Linked DNA regions of Homo sapiens: all the other regions are reported to be linked to region 3. The links are microRNA targets in miRTarBase. Many come from high-throughput screens and were not tested one by one. Region 3 holds a microRNA gene; each other region holds the end of a gene's coding sequence.

The links. The annotated mature microRNA hsa-miR-486-3p reads CGGGGCAGCUCAGUACAGGAU and lies in region 3 at 771-791, opposite strand. An mRNA with a match to its seed (bases 2 to 7 or 8) in the 3' UTR can be bound and repressed. Matches are read on the target gene's strand: a 7mer-m8 pairs with bases 2 to 8, a 7mer-A1 pairs with bases 2 to 7 and ends in A, and an 8mer does both.
Region 1: miRTarBase lists FZD7 as a target of hsa-miR-486-3p. Seed matches in the 3' UTR shown: 7mer-m8 at 1,959-1,965.
Region 2: miRTarBase lists REPIN1 as a target of hsa-miR-486-3p. Seed matches in the 3' UTR shown: 7mer-m8 at 1,076-1,082.
Region 4: miRTarBase lists CD276 as a target of hsa-miR-486-3p. Seed matches in the 3' UTR shown: 7mer-m8 at 264-270, 8mer at 809-816, 7mer-m8 at 1,508-1,514 and 8mer at 1,640-1,647.
Region 5: miRTarBase lists ZNF787 as a target of hsa-miR-486-3p. Seed matches in the 3' UTR shown: 7mer-m8 at 565-571.

The regions. Positions count from the first base shown.
Region 1 is chr2:202,035,910-202,038,909 of GRCh38, reverse strand. FZD7 (frizzled class receptor 7) reads right to left here. Exons shown (of 1, transcript NM_003507.2): 1 at 469-3,000. The coding sequence ends at 2,538. Among named protein-coding and RNA genes, the nearest start is that of FZD7, 3.6 kb to the right of the region's middle. RefSeq lists an enhancer at 1-305.
Region 2 is chr7:150,372,418-150,375,417 of GRCh38, forward strand. It overlaps REPIN1 (replication initiator 1), which reads left to right. Exons shown (of 3, transcript NM_001099695.2): 3 at 1-1,622. The coding sequence ends at 528. REPIN1-AS1 (REPIN1 antisense RNA 1) reads right to left here and starts at 526. Exons shown (of 4, transcript NR_183429.1): 1 at 424-526. RefSeq lists enhancers at 921-1,040, 1,101-1,250.
Region 3 is chr8:41,659,673-41,662,672 of GRCh38, forward strand. MIR486-1 (microRNA 486-1) reads right to left here and starts at 836; the gene lies at 769-836. It overlaps ANK1 (ankyrin 1), which reads right to left. Exons shown (of 43, transcript NM_000037.4): 41 at 2,204-2,269; 42 at 1,758-1,892. The coding sequence ends at 1,794. MIR486-2 (microRNA 486-2) reads left to right here and starts at 772; the gene lies at 772-835.
Region 4 is chr15:73,712,769-73,715,768 of GRCh38, forward strand. It overlaps CD276 (CD276 molecule), which reads left to right. Exons shown (of 10, transcript NM_001024736.2): 10 at 166-1,746. The coding sequence ends at 188. Among named protein-coding and RNA genes, the nearest start is that of CD276, 30 kb to the left of the region's middle.
Region 5 is chr19:56,085,382-56,088,381 of GRCh38, reverse strand. ZNF787 (zinc finger protein 787) reads left to right here. Exons shown (of 3, transcript NM_001002836.4): 3 at 1-1,016. The coding sequence ends at 359. Among named protein-coding and RNA genes, the nearest start is that of LINC01864, 20 kb to the right of the region's middle. RefSeq lists enhancers at 1,435-2,034, 2,370-2,869, 2,870-3,000.

The DNA of each region.
Region 1 (3,000 bases), not on the chromosome of region 3:
AAAAAAACAAAAAACCAAACACCCAAAAACTCACTGTATTCTTCACAAGGGAAACACTACCAAAAAAAGCAGCAAATATAAACACTATCTTCTAGTCCCTTTTGAATATGGATTTCATCTCCTAAGGGCAGTAAAAACATAGATCAGACAGCACTTCTCTAAAAGAGATGCTTATTCAATACCTTCAATAGTCATCCAAAGCAGGATGTAAAAAGGCTTAGGGGTATGTAGTGGGGTGGTGTGGAGGAAGGCAGGAAGCAGCAACAACAGGAAAAAAAAAATTAAATGACAGTCAAGGCATTCATTATACTCTATCTTAAAGGCGGGAGCAAAAAAGACCTCAATAATATACACCATTCTCTTTGAGGGACACACCCAATGTTGTCCCTCCATACTATTTTCCCATACTTTCCTTCTTTCTCTTCTTTGGTTTAATATTACAGGAATAGTAAACTAAATAAATGTTCATTTTGTATTTAAAAAAATTTATTTGTGATCTGTACATGTGATAAAGTGGGGTAGACCTTTAAAGCCAACAAAACAAAAATCCAAAGTAAAAATGTATAAATACAATATATATTTTCTTACAAAAATGGGAGATTTACAAAATATACATACTGTACTTATCTCTATTTTACAAATTTCACATGCACTTAAAAGATACAGCACAAAAGATGCCAAAACCTGTGTTGGAGTTTTAAAAATCTGACAGATGAGATAGTTTTGAAGGTTGAAGAAACACAAGATCGATTTTAACTTTAATGTAAAAAGCAGTTCCACTCAAGTGAACATTACATATATAAAGTAACTTGTACACTTTACAGTACCCTCTATGATTGGCATTTAAAAACTGTTCTGAGAAACAGGATAGTGTTGCAAGATTGGAGGGTAGTGTCAAAGGTGGGATAAAGGTTAGCTCCCATGATTCTCTGCTAAGCTTTACCCCATCATGCAAAAGAATCCGAGTTCTATTACAGAAAAAAAGTACATGATTTAAGATTAATAAATTTAAGTCTTCCAGCACATTTCAAAGAACTCCAGAATCACTTTGAAGTTTACCTTCTTTTAATGACTTTCTTTAAAGATGGGGCCCATGGTTCAAACCTTCCTCTTCGTTCACTATGGTATCTGCTGATCGCCTCCCAACCCAACCACACAGAGACAGGGTCAGCATATGGATGATGTTTAATAAACAGATTGATGGAACCAAGAAAACAGGACAAAATGGCTCTTTGCTTTTTTTTTTTAATTAACTTTCCTTTATTATGAGGCTGAAGACATTATGTTTTTTTACCTCAAAGGATCCAAATGGGAGAAAAAAATAGAAAAGAAACCTAAATATAGGCTTATAGCAAGAAAAAGTAAATGAAGGGAGAGATTTCCCTGAATATTTTAACATAGTCTGTTGGATCATGTGTTCCGAATTAAATTTATTTAAAACAGACAACAAAACCTCTTACATTTCCTTTAGCGAAGTCAGAACCTCTGGCTTAACGGTGTGTGACAGCACACTGCTCTTCACTTTTCCTTAAAAAGGAATGTTTATCTCAACCAAATTAACAACCAACGGGAAACCTCAGATTTGCGCTGCTTTGCCTATAAAAGTTGCTTTCGTCACAGTTATGCCTTTCCACAGGGAGACACTTTTGTTTCCTCTTTTGTCTCTTACAACAAAGACAAGGGGAAAAATGCATTCCTGTTTTGAAAAGCAACAAGTCATCACTTCTTTTCAGGGTATTAGACCAAATAAAACACCCGTCTTTCTGCCTCCTGCCTTCCCCAGAAAATGAAAAAGTAGCAAAAATACCTACTCCACGTCTCCTTGGCCTTATCTCAAAATGTTATCATCATTTCTTTTGCATCCTCACATTAGGATTCTAGCAGGCAGGCCTCCCAAGACTTCCAAATGCTTATTTTACAAGACCTGAAAGCAGTACGGGAGGAAAAACAGGCGGGAGGGGGCAGGGGAGGAGAGACCGTAATGTCTGACCCTGGAAATTAACCCATCTGGGCTCCAGTTTGGCCCCAGTGAAAAGAGATTATGGTTTGACCACTGCTTGACAAGCACACCGCAGGAGGCCCTCCCTCTTTCCAACAAAGCAGCCACCGCAGACAGGGCTGTACCTTTCCCGGGGCCTCACAGGGGTCTGGACAGGCCACTCGCCCTGCAGCAGGGGGATCGCTCACAGTCCCCGTTCAGCCTCGGAGCCGGGAGAAACTCACAGCAGTCTCTGCTGGTCTCAACCTTCTATTAGGCACAAGCTGGCCCGTACCTTTGACGATTCACATCGCCGTTATCATCATCTTCCTGCAAGTCTTTGCCTGAAATCTTTTCATCCAAACCGCTTTCCACCCAGGTCTTCTTTTCCAAATCACCCCTCGCCCCAAATCTGCAAAGAACTTCTCACTTCCAGGTCACTTCTCAGTAGAGGGGGAGAAAGTTACAGAAACAGGCCCCCACCCAGCAGTTCTTTTCCCTACCGTGCCTCTCCTCTTGCAAGAGGGCTGGGGTGGGAAAGGTGGGGAGGGGCCGGGGCTCATACCGCAGTCTCCCCCTTGCTGCTGTGGCTAAGTCTGTGGTAGAAGCGGCGCCACGACTGCAGGGTCTTGCCCGACCAGATCCAGAAGCCAGTGGTGATGCCGACGATCATGGTCATCAGGTACTTGATCATGAAGACGGTGAAGTCGGGGCTCATGGGCGGGAAGTGGCCGGGCGGGCAGGGCACGGCATAGCTCTTGCACGTCTGCAGGAGCCAGGTGCGCTCCCAGTGCTCGCGGAAGGCCTGCTCGTAGAAGTAGCAGGCCAGGACGATGGTGGCGGGCACTGTGTAGAGCACGCTGAAGACGCCGATGCGCACCATGAGCTTCTCCAGCTTCTCGGTCTTGGTGCCGTCGTGTTTCATGATGGTGCGGATACGGAAGAGGGACACGAAGCCGGCCAGCAAGAAGGACGTGCCTATGAAGAGGTAGACGAACAGAGGCGCCAGCACGAAGCCCCGC
Region 2 (3,000 bases), not on the chromosome of region 3:
CACCAGCGGCAGCACACCGGGGAGCGGCCCTTCACCTGCGCCGAGTGCGGGAAGAACTTCGGCAAGAAGACGCACCTGGTGGCGCACTCGCGCGTGCACTCCGGCGAGCGGCCCTTCGCCTGCGAGGAGTGCGGCCGCCGCTTCTCCCAGGGCAGCCATCTGGCGGCGCATCGGCGCGACCACGCCCCCGATCGGCCCTTCGTGTGTCCCGACTGCGGCAAGGCCTTCCGCCACAAACCCTACCTGGCGGCGCACCGGCGCATCCACACCGGCGAGAAGCCCTACGTCTGCCCCGACTGCGGCAAAGCCTTCAGCCAGAAGTCCAACCTGGTGTCGCACCGGCGCATCCACACGGGCGAGCGGCCCTACGCCTGTCCCGACTGCGACCGCAGCTTCAGCCAGAAGTCCAACCTCATCACCCACCGCAAGAGCCACATCCGGGACGGCGCCTTCTGCTGTGCCATCTGTGGCCAGACCTTCGACGACGAGGAGAGACTCCTGGCCCACCAGAAGAAGCACGATGTCTGAGACGGTGGGCGGGGCCGTGTTGGCTGAGAGAGGGCTGGGGTCCTTCGTGGTGGGAGTCGCAGTGGGCTGGGGGTGCCTGCCTAGTGCTGGAGTAGGGGACAATGGGAATCCTAGAGGGGATGGAAGACGCGGGGAGTGAGCTGGGTGGGCCCTGCTAGCGAGAGAGGTCAACCCCGGTGGCCAGGGAACCCACTTCCAAGCGCAGGGACGCCGGCCTCCAGCTGGTGTGTGCTAAGGCTCCGTCCTGACTGCCCTGTGCCCTGGAAAAGCAGCAATAGCATCCGCCCCTTAGAGCCCTCTGGCTAGAGGAGCCACCAGTGGAAAGGAAGACCCTCCATCCTCTGGTATTAACGCCTTAATGCCCCTGTCTTTTACTGTAAGTTACTTAAGATCATTTTTGGAAGCAGGCGTGGTAGAGTCCTGTAAATGAATGCTCTGGGCTAGATACAGCTTGGAGAACCTGCTGGCCTTGTTAGACAGCACTTGGGCCTTTGCCAGCAGCAAGAGGTGAAGCGAAGCCACTCTTACCTCTCCCTTCCCCTCCCACCTGCCCCCTGCGTAGGCACCCAGACTTGGAGAGACCCGTCTGCTGTTAATACTTCCATCCTCTTCCTTCCCAAAGAGCAGATCCCAAGGCATTTACTCCTTGGTCTGTCTCGCTTTATCTGTCGCCCCTCCCAGCGCTGAGAGCCTCCCCTGGCTGTCAGCAGCACTGTGTCCAGGCTCTTGTCTGAACACCGCAGCCCCTCCTTCGCTCCTTCCAGAGCTCAGCATGTCACGGCAAGGACTGCCGCATTGGTGATGGAGGGCCAGCTGAGGGGAAGTTGCTGGTGAGTTTCCTTTTCTCCATTTCTAGCATATGGACACCTGGCCTCTGCTTGAGCACTTAGGTGACAGGAACTTCCGCACCTCCTGAGGCCCTGGATGATTCTAATTGTTAGAAATTCTAATTGTTAGAAATCCTTCCTTATAATGAATGAATTCTGCTTTCCTATAATTTCTACCTATTGGGCCTTGTTCTGTTCTCTGGAACTAAACAGAACAACCATTTACCCCTCCTTTTCAAACTAGAGAATAAAGATTTGGTTTTAGAACTGGTGGCTGGGGAGTGTTACTTTTTCTGGGGGAGCTGCGACATGTCAGGAGGAGCAGCATGCTCTCCTCCCTAGAAGGACGGGGGGCTGTGGGTGGGGCTCTGGCCACAGGCCACATGCCCAGCTTGCTGAGCTCTGGCCCCCTGCCTCAGTTCTTCCCTGAGCATACCCAGGCAGTTGGGCTAATTCTCTGGGTGGTGGGCCGAAGCTCCAGAGAACTGTGGTGGGTGGAATGCTCTCAGCTTGGTCCCAAGATTTATGTTCTTGGTCACTTGCCCTCCTAGATGGGCCCAGCAACACCTAATCTTTCTCACCACCTGGGCCTTTATGAAACTACAGCAAGCACTATGAGCTCTTTTGAGGGGTGCTGGGTGTTAAACGGACTTTGGTTATACTTGGACTGTGCCTCCAGTAGTCCTTCAGAGGTTGGACAGATGAAGGAGCCTCTGGGAGGGGAGGCTGTTCCCTGCAGCTAAGACAGCACTCAGCTTCCACACTCCACACACCAGGGTTTCAGCCTTCTTTGAGGTTGTTGTCAAACCCAGCCTGGGTCCACTTGCCCAGTGTTTGCAAAGCCTAACACCGACAGTGAGATTTGCAGCCAGAGAAAGTAAGGCGTTTATTGCAGAGCACCAGGCGAGGAGAATGGGCAGCTAAGGCTCAAACTCCCTGATGGCTTTTAAGCAAGGGTTTTTAAGGCAGGGGTGGGGAGGTTTCAAAGGGAGTTAGGGGCTGAGGAATTTCTGGAACTTCCTTATCCATTTTCTGGTTCCAGTCTGTCTGAGGTCTACGTGCTGGCATTGTCACGTGGTGACATTGGTGGGGGTCCTGGCTCCTGAAAAACAACTCAAGGATATATGTCAAGATGTTATCTTTAGGCCAGGCATGGTGGCTCATGCCTGTAATCCCGGCACTTTGGGAGGCCGAGGTGGGTGGATCACCTGAGGTCAGGAGTTCAAGACCAGCCTGGCCAACATGGTGAAACCCCATCTCTACTAAAAATACAAAATTAGCTGGGTGTGGTGGCGGGCCCCTGTAGTCCCAGCTACTAGGGAGGCTGAAGCAGGAGAATTGCTTGAACCTGGGAGGCGGAGGTTGCAATGAGCTGAGATCGTGCCACTGCATTCCAGCCTGGGCAACAGAGTAAGACTTTGTCTCAAAACAAACAAACAACCCAAAAAACAAAACAAACAAAAAGATGTTATCTTTAGTTTCTATGAGGAAGCTAACATTCTGTGACTACTACTTGAGTGACTATTGTTTAAGCTATTATTACTTTCTTGCTTAGCGGGTTATTCATTCATTTCCCCAATTCATGGTTGTAGAGCTAGCTAGGTGCCTGGAATTTCCCTGGGAGGGACTCACATTTTTGTTTATT
Region 3 (3,000 bases):
CCCTCACCACTGCTCTCGCCCCACCGCCCCACCCCCCTGCCACCCTCACACTTGTCCCTGTGCCTGTCACTGACAGAGGGCCAAGTGCTGTCCCAGAGCCAGGCTGCTCCGTGTTTCTGACACCCATGCTAGTGTGGTCCGGTCCTTAATCACCTGAGGTTGGGGGGCTTCAGCCACATTGCAGATCACTTACGGCAAATTAAAATGAAATTCAAGGCTCCCTCCTTCCCCCTAGCCTGGCTTTCGGGCTGCCTCTCTCCCACTCAGGAGCATCCATAGAGCCTGAGCCAAAGAGAAATTTAAAGCCACAGCCGCCACTGCTACCATAAGAAAAATAAGTCAGAAAAGTGTACTTTTCCTTTCCCTTTGCTGCTTTTAAACATTATTTGCATCTTTGGGTTCTTTCCAGGACCCAACAGCAGCTACTCAGAGTCTTCTAAACCAGCAGCCTAGTGGGACCCCTGGCAGTGCAGGGGTTAACACGGTGACCTCCTTAAGCTGCTGAGGTGTCAGGTCTAATTTTATCCTATAACTGGATCTGCCAGTCCTCTTTTTTGCCCAAGTGCTGAGATATATTGGGAAGCCCAGAGTCAGCACTTTTGGTGGCTCAGGAGGCAGCGGGCCCTGATTTTTGCCGAATGCAGAAAGCTAGAGCCTCCTTGCTGCTCGGTCCCAGAGTCAGGCCCTGGGGTGTGAATGGTAACGGCCTGGTTAGTGCTGCACTGGGGCCACCATGCCCCCTCACCTCCTGCTGACTCCCACCCCGAGGTATCCTGTACTGAGCTGCCCCGAGCTGGGCAGCATGAAGGGCCTCGGGGCAGCTCAGTACAGGATGCCCCAGGGAGGATGGAGATCAGAGCCGGCCGCTGAAGCCCCCAGCACCACACACACCTGCTGGAGATGGTCGCACAGCGTCTTCATGTCCCTTCCTCATGGCACGGCACGGCACGGCATGCCCCTGCTCTGTGGCCACACTGCCCCATGCTCACACACATGCACCACAGCCCAGGCCCCGGCCCCAACCCTGACGGTCTCCTGACTTGCAGAAAGCACGTCGTCCACCCCTTAGGCCTGTCGGCTCAGCCCTTTCCTAGAAAGCAAGGGAGCAACGTGTTTCACAAAACACCAAAGAGAAGCTAAGCCTTGGCCTGGTGAGAACTGTAGCTGGGCTCCAGGTTCAAGAGACAGTCCAGTCCTCAGTCTTGGAGCTCTTATGTTGAAGCATCACAGCCCAGACCAACTCTCCTGTCCTCTTCAATGCCCTGTCCACTGCTTTCTAGATCCCCATTGCTTGGTTTCCAAGATAATATTACCACTTAGATTTACAGAGTGCTTTTACTTTTCAAAGAGCATTTTTTTCTTTCTGGCTTTTTTTTTTCTTTTTTTTGTGATGGGGTCTTGCTCTGTTGCCCAGGCTGGTCTTGAACTCCTGGCCTAAAGCAATCCTTTTGCCTCGACCTCACAAAATGCTGGGATTACAGACATGAGCCACTGTGCCCGGCCCAAAAGGCATTCTTACAAAACCGTGCGGTCCCTGATAAGTGGATATTATTAACTCTGTTTCCTTGATGAGGAAGCTGGGGTTCAGAGCCAACTGTTAGCAGGGTTGGGAAGTGAGAATCTCTGCCTCGAGACACAACAACAAGTTGTTTGTCCCACATCATGCTGGGGTGGCTGGGAGGGGATAGGGTGAGACAGGGAGCAGCCACTCCACTGAAGACCAGGCCATGCAGAGGGGATGAGAAGGGCAGCGTTACCTCCCGAGAGGCTACTCCAAGGAGAGCGGCTCGGGGTCACTGTTTCCCCCTTTTCAGGCTGGCCCGCTTCACTATCTGCGCCCCCTTCCTGCCCTCTATCAGGTCCGGCTGTAGGCCACTCCCTCTCAGCTCCACCTGCAGACAGCAGCAGAGACAGAAAGCAGGACAGATCGCAAAGACGGGCAGAACACAGGCAGAAGATCGAAAGGAGGCCACACGGAGGTGGCAGACACACTGCCCACCAGGGAGAAGAGAGACTGGAGAGAGAGCTCATAAAGAGGTGAGTGGAGGGAGGTGTCATGCAGACGGCCCGGCAGAGCAAGGCAGCAGTGATGGCGCTGGGTCCCCCAGGGCCGCGGGCGCCTCAGTACCTTGGAGTGTTTCATAAAGTAATCAATATCGACCTCCAGCTCACTGGGATCCTCCAGGGGCCCCTCTACAGTCACCTCCTCGTGCTCCTGGGCGGCATCGGCGCTGGACAAGTCTATCTGTCGAACCACCTTGCGAATGATCTAGGAAAGGAAGGGAAGGAGGAAAGGGCTGGTCAGGCCGGGCTCGGGGGCTCATGTCTGTAATCTCAGCACTTTGGGAGGCTGACGTGCAGATCATCTGAGGTCAGGAGTTTGAGACCAGCCTGGCCAACATGGTGAAACCCTGTCTCTACTAAAAATACAAAAATTAGCCCGGTGTGGTGGCAGGTGCCTGTAATCCCAGCTACTCAGGAGGCTGTGGCAGGAGAATCACTTGAACCTGGTGGATGGAGGTTGCAGTGAGCTGAGATTGCATCACTGCACTCCAGCCTGGTTGACAGAGCAACACTCTGTGTCAAAAAAAAAAAGGCGGGGGGGCTGGTCAAGCCCTCAAGACAGAGCTTCAGAACAGCAGTTCCCAGGAATGAGCTCCGAGGGGGAGGTAGCTTTTGTCCTAGGAGCCCCTCCTTGAGAGGCCAAGAAGAGGGACAGCCTTTGCCCCATTGCTTAATGGAAAACCCTCTGCTAGACAGCCCTGAAGGGGCCTTGGCAGTGTCATTTCATGACCAAGGTGTGACTGGGTGTGACCTCCCCCTCGAGCCCACAGCCTTCTGTTTTGCTTTTTGATATGGATGGGAGTTTGTGCTCTTCCCCATTCTACTCCCATGAGCCTAAGGGCAGAGGGCATCTCTTTTTCACCCACCCATTCCCGTATTCACCTGTCCAAATCTTCAAACCCTTTACTCTGTATCTGCCGTGTGCTCTGAGTGGGA
Region 4 (3,000 bases), not on the chromosome of region 3:
GGGCCGTGGTCAGCACGGGGGCTGTCCGTTGGGCTGCTGTCTCACACACACTCCCCACTTGAAGTCTGACCAGGTGCTTGGGCTTCTGGCATAATCCCAAAAATAGATCTTCTGGCATCTAATGCTTTTCCCTTCCCTTTTTTTTCTTCCCATCATGAAATGAAGATGATGGACAAGAAATAGCCTGACCATGAGGACCAGGGAGCTGCTACCCCTCCCTACAGCTCCTACCCTCTGGCTGCAATGGGGCTGCACTGTGAGCCCTGCCCCCAACAGATGCATCCTGCTCTGACAGGTGGGCTCCTTCTCCAAAGGATGCGATACACAGACCACTGTGCAGCCTTATTTCTCCAATGGACATGATTCCCAAGTCATCCTGCTGCCTTTTTTCTTATAGACACAATGAACAGACCACCCACAACCTTAGTTCTCTAAGTCATCCTGCCTGCTGCCTTATTTCACAGTACATACATTTCTTAGGGACACAGTACACTGACCACATCACCACCCTCTTCTTCCAGTGCTGCGTGGACCATCTGGCTGCCTTTTTTCTCCAAAAGATGCAATATTCAGACTGACTGACCCCCTGCCTTATTTCACCAAAGACACGATGCATAGTCACCCCGGCCTTGTTTCTCCAATGGCCGTGATACACTAGTGATCATGTTCAGCCCTGCTTCCACCTGCATAGAATCTTTTCTTCTCAGACAGGGACAGTGCGGCCTCAACATCTCCTGGAGTCTAGAAGCTGTTTCCTTTCCCCTCCTTCCTCCTCTTGCTCTAGCCTTAATACTGGCCTTTTCCCTCCCTGCCCCAAGTGAAGACAGGGCACTCTGCGCCCACCACATGCACAGCTGTGCATGGAGACCTGCAGGTGCACGTGCTGGAACACGTGTGGTTCCCCCCTGGCCCAGCCTCCTCTGCAGTGCCCCTCTCCCCTGCCCATCCTCCCCACGGAAGCATGTGCTGGTCACACTGGTTCTCCAGGGGTCTGTGATGGGGCCCCTGGGGGTCAGCTTCTGTCCCTCTGCCTTCTCACCTCTTTGTTCCTTTCTTTTCATGTATCCATTCAGTTGATGTTTATTGAGCAACTACAGATGTCAGCACTGTGTTAGGTGCTGGGGGCCCTGCGTGGGAAGATAAAGTTCCTCCCTCAAGGACTCCCCATCCAGCTGGGAGACAGACAACTAACTACACTGCACCCTGCGGTTTGCAGGGGGCTCCTGCCTGGCTCCCTGCTCCACACCTCCTCTGTGGCTCAAGGCTTCCTGGATACCTCACCCCCATCCCACCCATAATTCTTACCCAGAGCATGGGGTTGGGGCGGAAACCTGGAGAGAGGGACATAGCCCCTCGCCACGGCTAGAGAATCTGGTGGTGTCCAAAATGTCTGTCCAGGTGTGGGCAGGTGGGCAGGCACCAAGGCCCTCTGGACCTTTCATAGCAGCAGAAAAGGCAGAGCCTGGGGCAGGGCAGGGCCAGGAATGCTTTGGGGACACCGAGGGGACTGCCCCCCACCCCCACCATGGTGCTATTCTGGGGCTGGGGCAGTCTTTTCCTGGCTTGCCTCTGGCCAGCTCCTGGCCTCTGGTAGAGTGAGACTTCAGACGTTCTGATGCCTTCCGGATGTCATCTCTCCCTGCCCCAGGAATGGAAGATGTGAGGACTTCTAATTTAAATGTGGGACTCGGAGGGATTTTGTAAACTGGGGGTATATTTTGGGGAAAATAAATGTCTTTGTAAAAAGCTTTTTCTCTGTGAAGTGTTTGGAAGCAGGGTGGGCCCCAGGACTCAACCAGCAGGATTCTCTCCTGGATGTTGCAGGCTGGGGTAGGGAAGCCTGGCCCTCCTTATCTCACCGTCCTTAAATCACTGGATCCCCAAGGCCATTTGGCTCCCTCCTTGGCTTCAGTTTCCCTCTGGGTAAAGTGAAGTTGGTTGTCCAGAAAGCCAGGCCCTTTGGTCACTGTATGGGGCTCCTCCCACTGGAAGCATCACTCAATTTCTTTGCCTCAGAAAACTCAAACCTAGGCTTGTTTAGGGCCTCTACTAATGAACCCATTTTAGAGACTGTGAAGCTGAGACCCAGTAAGAAGCTGGCACCAGGAAAAGAGTTCTGAATGCTGTTTCTGGCTGACTCAATTGGATGGGCACCAGGCCAGGGATCAGAGGTCCATTCCCAGGACATAGTTCTGCCCTATGACCCTGAGCAGGACATTTACCTTCTCTGAGCCTTGGCTTTCTTGTACAAAAAATAGCCACCTATGCATAGTGGCTCATGCCTGTAATCCCAACACTTTGGGAGGCTGAGGTGGGAGGATCGCTTAAGGCCAGGATTTCAAGACTAGCCTGGGCAACATAGCAAGACCCTGTCTCTGCACAGAAATAAAAAATTAGCGAGGTGCGGTGGCACCCACCTGTAGTCCTAGTTACTCAGGAGGCTGAGGTGGGAGGATCGCTTAAGGCCAGGATTTCAAGACTAGCCCGGGCAACATAACAAGACCCTGTCTCTGCACAAATAAAAAATTAACTACAGGCACACACCTGTAGTCCTATTACTCAGGAGGCTGAGGTGGGAGAATCACTTGATCTTCAGCCCAGGAGGTCGAAGTTGCCATGAGCTGTAATTGTACCACTGCATTCCAGCCTGGGCAACAGAGCAAGACTCTGTCTCTAAAGAAAAAAAAAAAAGAAAAGAAAAATAGGACTGAGGTTTTAACTACCTTCCATTTTGAAAGACTGAGAGGAGGCGCACAGGCTTCCAGAGAGCCAGATTCAGGGCTATGGGAACCTGCCTAGGATACTGCGTTCGCTTGCCCCTGGATGACAGTGTCCTGGCACTGGGACAGCCTGGAGCTTTGCAGACCCTGGGCAGCAGGAGGAGCCTGTGCTGGGGGTGAGGACACTTGACTTTCAATCCTGGCTCTGCTGCTAACCTGTGTCCATGTCCTTCATACCTCTGAGCCTTACTTTCCTTATCCATTAGATAGGGGTGACAAG
Region 5 (3,000 bases), not on the chromosome of region 3:
CAAAGGCCGCGGGGCCCCGGTCGCGGCGCGCCCCGGCCCCCAAGCCGTACGTGTGTCTGGAGTGCGGGAAGGGCTTCGGGCACGGGGCCGGGCTCCTGGCGCACCAGCGGGCCCAGCACGGGGACGGGCTCGGGGCGGCGGGGGGCGAGGAGCCGGCCCACATCTGCGTGGAGTGCGGGGAGGGCTTCGTGCAGGGCGCCGCGCTCCGGAGACACAAGAAGATCCACGCGGTGGGCGCGCCCTCGGTCTGCAGCAGCTGCGGACAGAGCTACTACCGCGCGGGCGGGGAGGAGGAGGACGACGACGACGAGGCCGCGGGCGGGCGGTGCCCCGAGTGCCGCGGTGGGGAGGGCCGGTAGGGGAGGGGCCCGGGGGGGGGGGCGGGCAGGGCCCCTCGGGCTTGGCGGGAGCGACGACGTGCAAGACCAAGAGACCCAGGGAGAAGCGGACGGGGTGCGATGGACCCCGCGGCATCCCCGGCTCCCCGCCCTCCTCTGTCCCTGCGCCGTCCGTGGGGGGGCACTGGGGCGTATTAGGGCCCGTTCACTTCTCCGCCTCGAGACTCTGCCCCCTCAGCCTGGCCCGCCCTTCCTAAGTTATCGGCCTGCGAGCCGGAGAGACAATGGAGAGAACTGCAGAGGCCGAGTGGCGACCAGGCCCCAAGCGGAAGGCCATTTTCCCTGCTCTTCCTCAGTTGTCCGGGGCGGGGGTGGGGGGTGCTGCGAGGAATGGAGAAACCAGGCCCTTTAGAGGATCCCAGAGAGGGAAGAGAACCAGGGGCCCTTTTCTCTTTTAGAATTTTCTTTTAATCAGCCCACCTTTTGACTCCCCGCCCGCCCCAATCCATTATTTTTTTCTGCCTTCCGGGTCCCATCCTTAGAGCTCGAGTCGTTCCTTCCCCTCCTGGATTCCGGGTAGCAGAGGCAGCGCCGCAGGAGGCGGGTGCCCGTTTGTCCCAGGCCTGGGCGTGGTGGAGGAAGGGGTGCTGGAACAATAAACGGCACTATCCAAATGTCCCCCTCTGCGTGGTTCTTGAGTCCGGGAGGGAGAAGGGCAAGAGGGGTAAACGGAGGCTCTCGCCGGGGCATCAGCAGAGCGTCAGCCGCGCCCCGGGAGTGGCCCGTTGGGTCGCCCGCGGAGGGCTCTAGGCAGGGGGGCCTGTCCGCGGATATCCTCACTATGGTGCGGGCACTCACAGGGCCTGGGAGCTGCTTGTAGATGGGGCAGGGCGGACTGGTCAGGGCCAGGCCTGCCCGCTGCAGGGGAAGGAGCCCCCACGGCTTCTACCACCCTCTCACAGGGGCGGCTGGCTTCCTCCACTCCTATCGTGTGGCCCCCGCCCCTAACCCCAAAAGCACCCTCCTCCTGCCTCCAGCTTCTGGGGGAGACTCTGACTGCAAAGGGCGCACGTCCCCCTACCTGGGTCGTTCACGGGGCTGGTCCCGTGGTTGCGGCTCCCTGCGAAGGAGGCTGGGAGATGAGGTCCCGGCGGCTGCCGCTCCGGGGACAGGACCCCCCGCCCCCTACGGGAGGAGGATGGTGCGCTCAGCTGTCTCTGCTGCAGGGGCCAGGCAGACGAGCCAGCCAGGGGCTGGGGGAGAGGGCGGGTATGCCACAGTCCAGCCGAGCGCTTAGGGCATTTCAGGCAGTGCGCGTGCCCGAGGGGCTTGGTCCGGTAGAGCCGCTGCAGCCGCCCTGCCAGGTGAGCGCTGTTGTTCATGATCAGAAGGGGGCTCGACCATGGCGACTGGTTTCCTGGACCCACAGCCCAGGTCCTGAGGACCCATGTTCCTGGGGCCTTGGGAGGCCGCAGTGAGGGTCCCAAAGGGGTATTTTCAACCTGGCTGAAGGCTGCGATTACTCAGGAGCGATTGGAGGCGGCAAGCTGCAGGCGTCTTTGACTTGGGGGTTTCATAGTAGAGGGGGACTTGAAGGAGAAATTCGGATTTCCAGTTAGAGCCCTTAATCTGCCCTTTCACACCCTGATGTGCTTGAGGAGGGTCCTGGGGCCTCATCTGGAGGCAGGGGGTTTAGAAACCAGGGCCACTGATGGTCTACAGATCCTGGAGGATTTGTTAGAGGACTAGGGAGTGATTGTGGATCAAAAAAGCGTGTTCTCAAGTGGCCAGAGCCTTGCTTAGATAATTGGTATTGCATGTCAGTTTTTGAAATTTCAGGTCACTCGAAAGGAGGGGGTGAACCTTGGCAGTTCAGAGTGGGCTGGGTTAGCAAAGACTGAGGAAGCATTGCTCACTTCTCCTAGGGTCCTTCTGTGGAGCTCTGGCCTTGGGCACTTCTGGAGGCCTGGGAGGATGGGAGGTGCCCTGTCTGGTAGAATTGGCAGCTCGGTGCCCCATAAGTCGGGCACACTGAGTCTCGGGTCAGCCTCTTCTACCTGCTCCAGTATATGGTGGCAGGAGCTGACACCTATAGCAAGAAAGATTCAGGGCAAGTTTCCACCCTGCCCCTTAAGGCTGTGTGACCCTGGGCAAGTGGACTAACCTCTCTGACCCTTGGCTTCCTGCCCTGTGGAAAGGAGAGCTTGCCTGCCTGCCTTGTATGACTGTGTGTGGAGGGGGGAATCCCCAAGCCATGTGTTAACTCACTGGAGCTGCCCTCCCAGGCATGAGCAAAGATGCAGGGGCGAGGAGCCAGGCTCAAATCCCAGCTCTGCACTACTCATCCCACTTTGTAATACAGAACTGAGCGAGCTCACATGACCACCTTGACATCAGCCTGCACCGGACCCAACACCTGACCTGTGCTTTGGTGTCACACGCTGTCCGTTACTGATTCATGCACTCAGGTAGTCATTGCCCACCCCTCACTCACTCATTCTACAAATGTGTTTTGGGCAGCAGCTCCGTGCCCAGTAGGCACGGCGTGGGTCCCAGGTAAAGAAAGGAACATGGGTTCTTGTGGCACTTGCCGTCGGCCCTGTAGTTCACCTGCATTGGAGCTGCTCACCCACGGCAAGGTGAGGCTAGGCGGCCGCTCCAT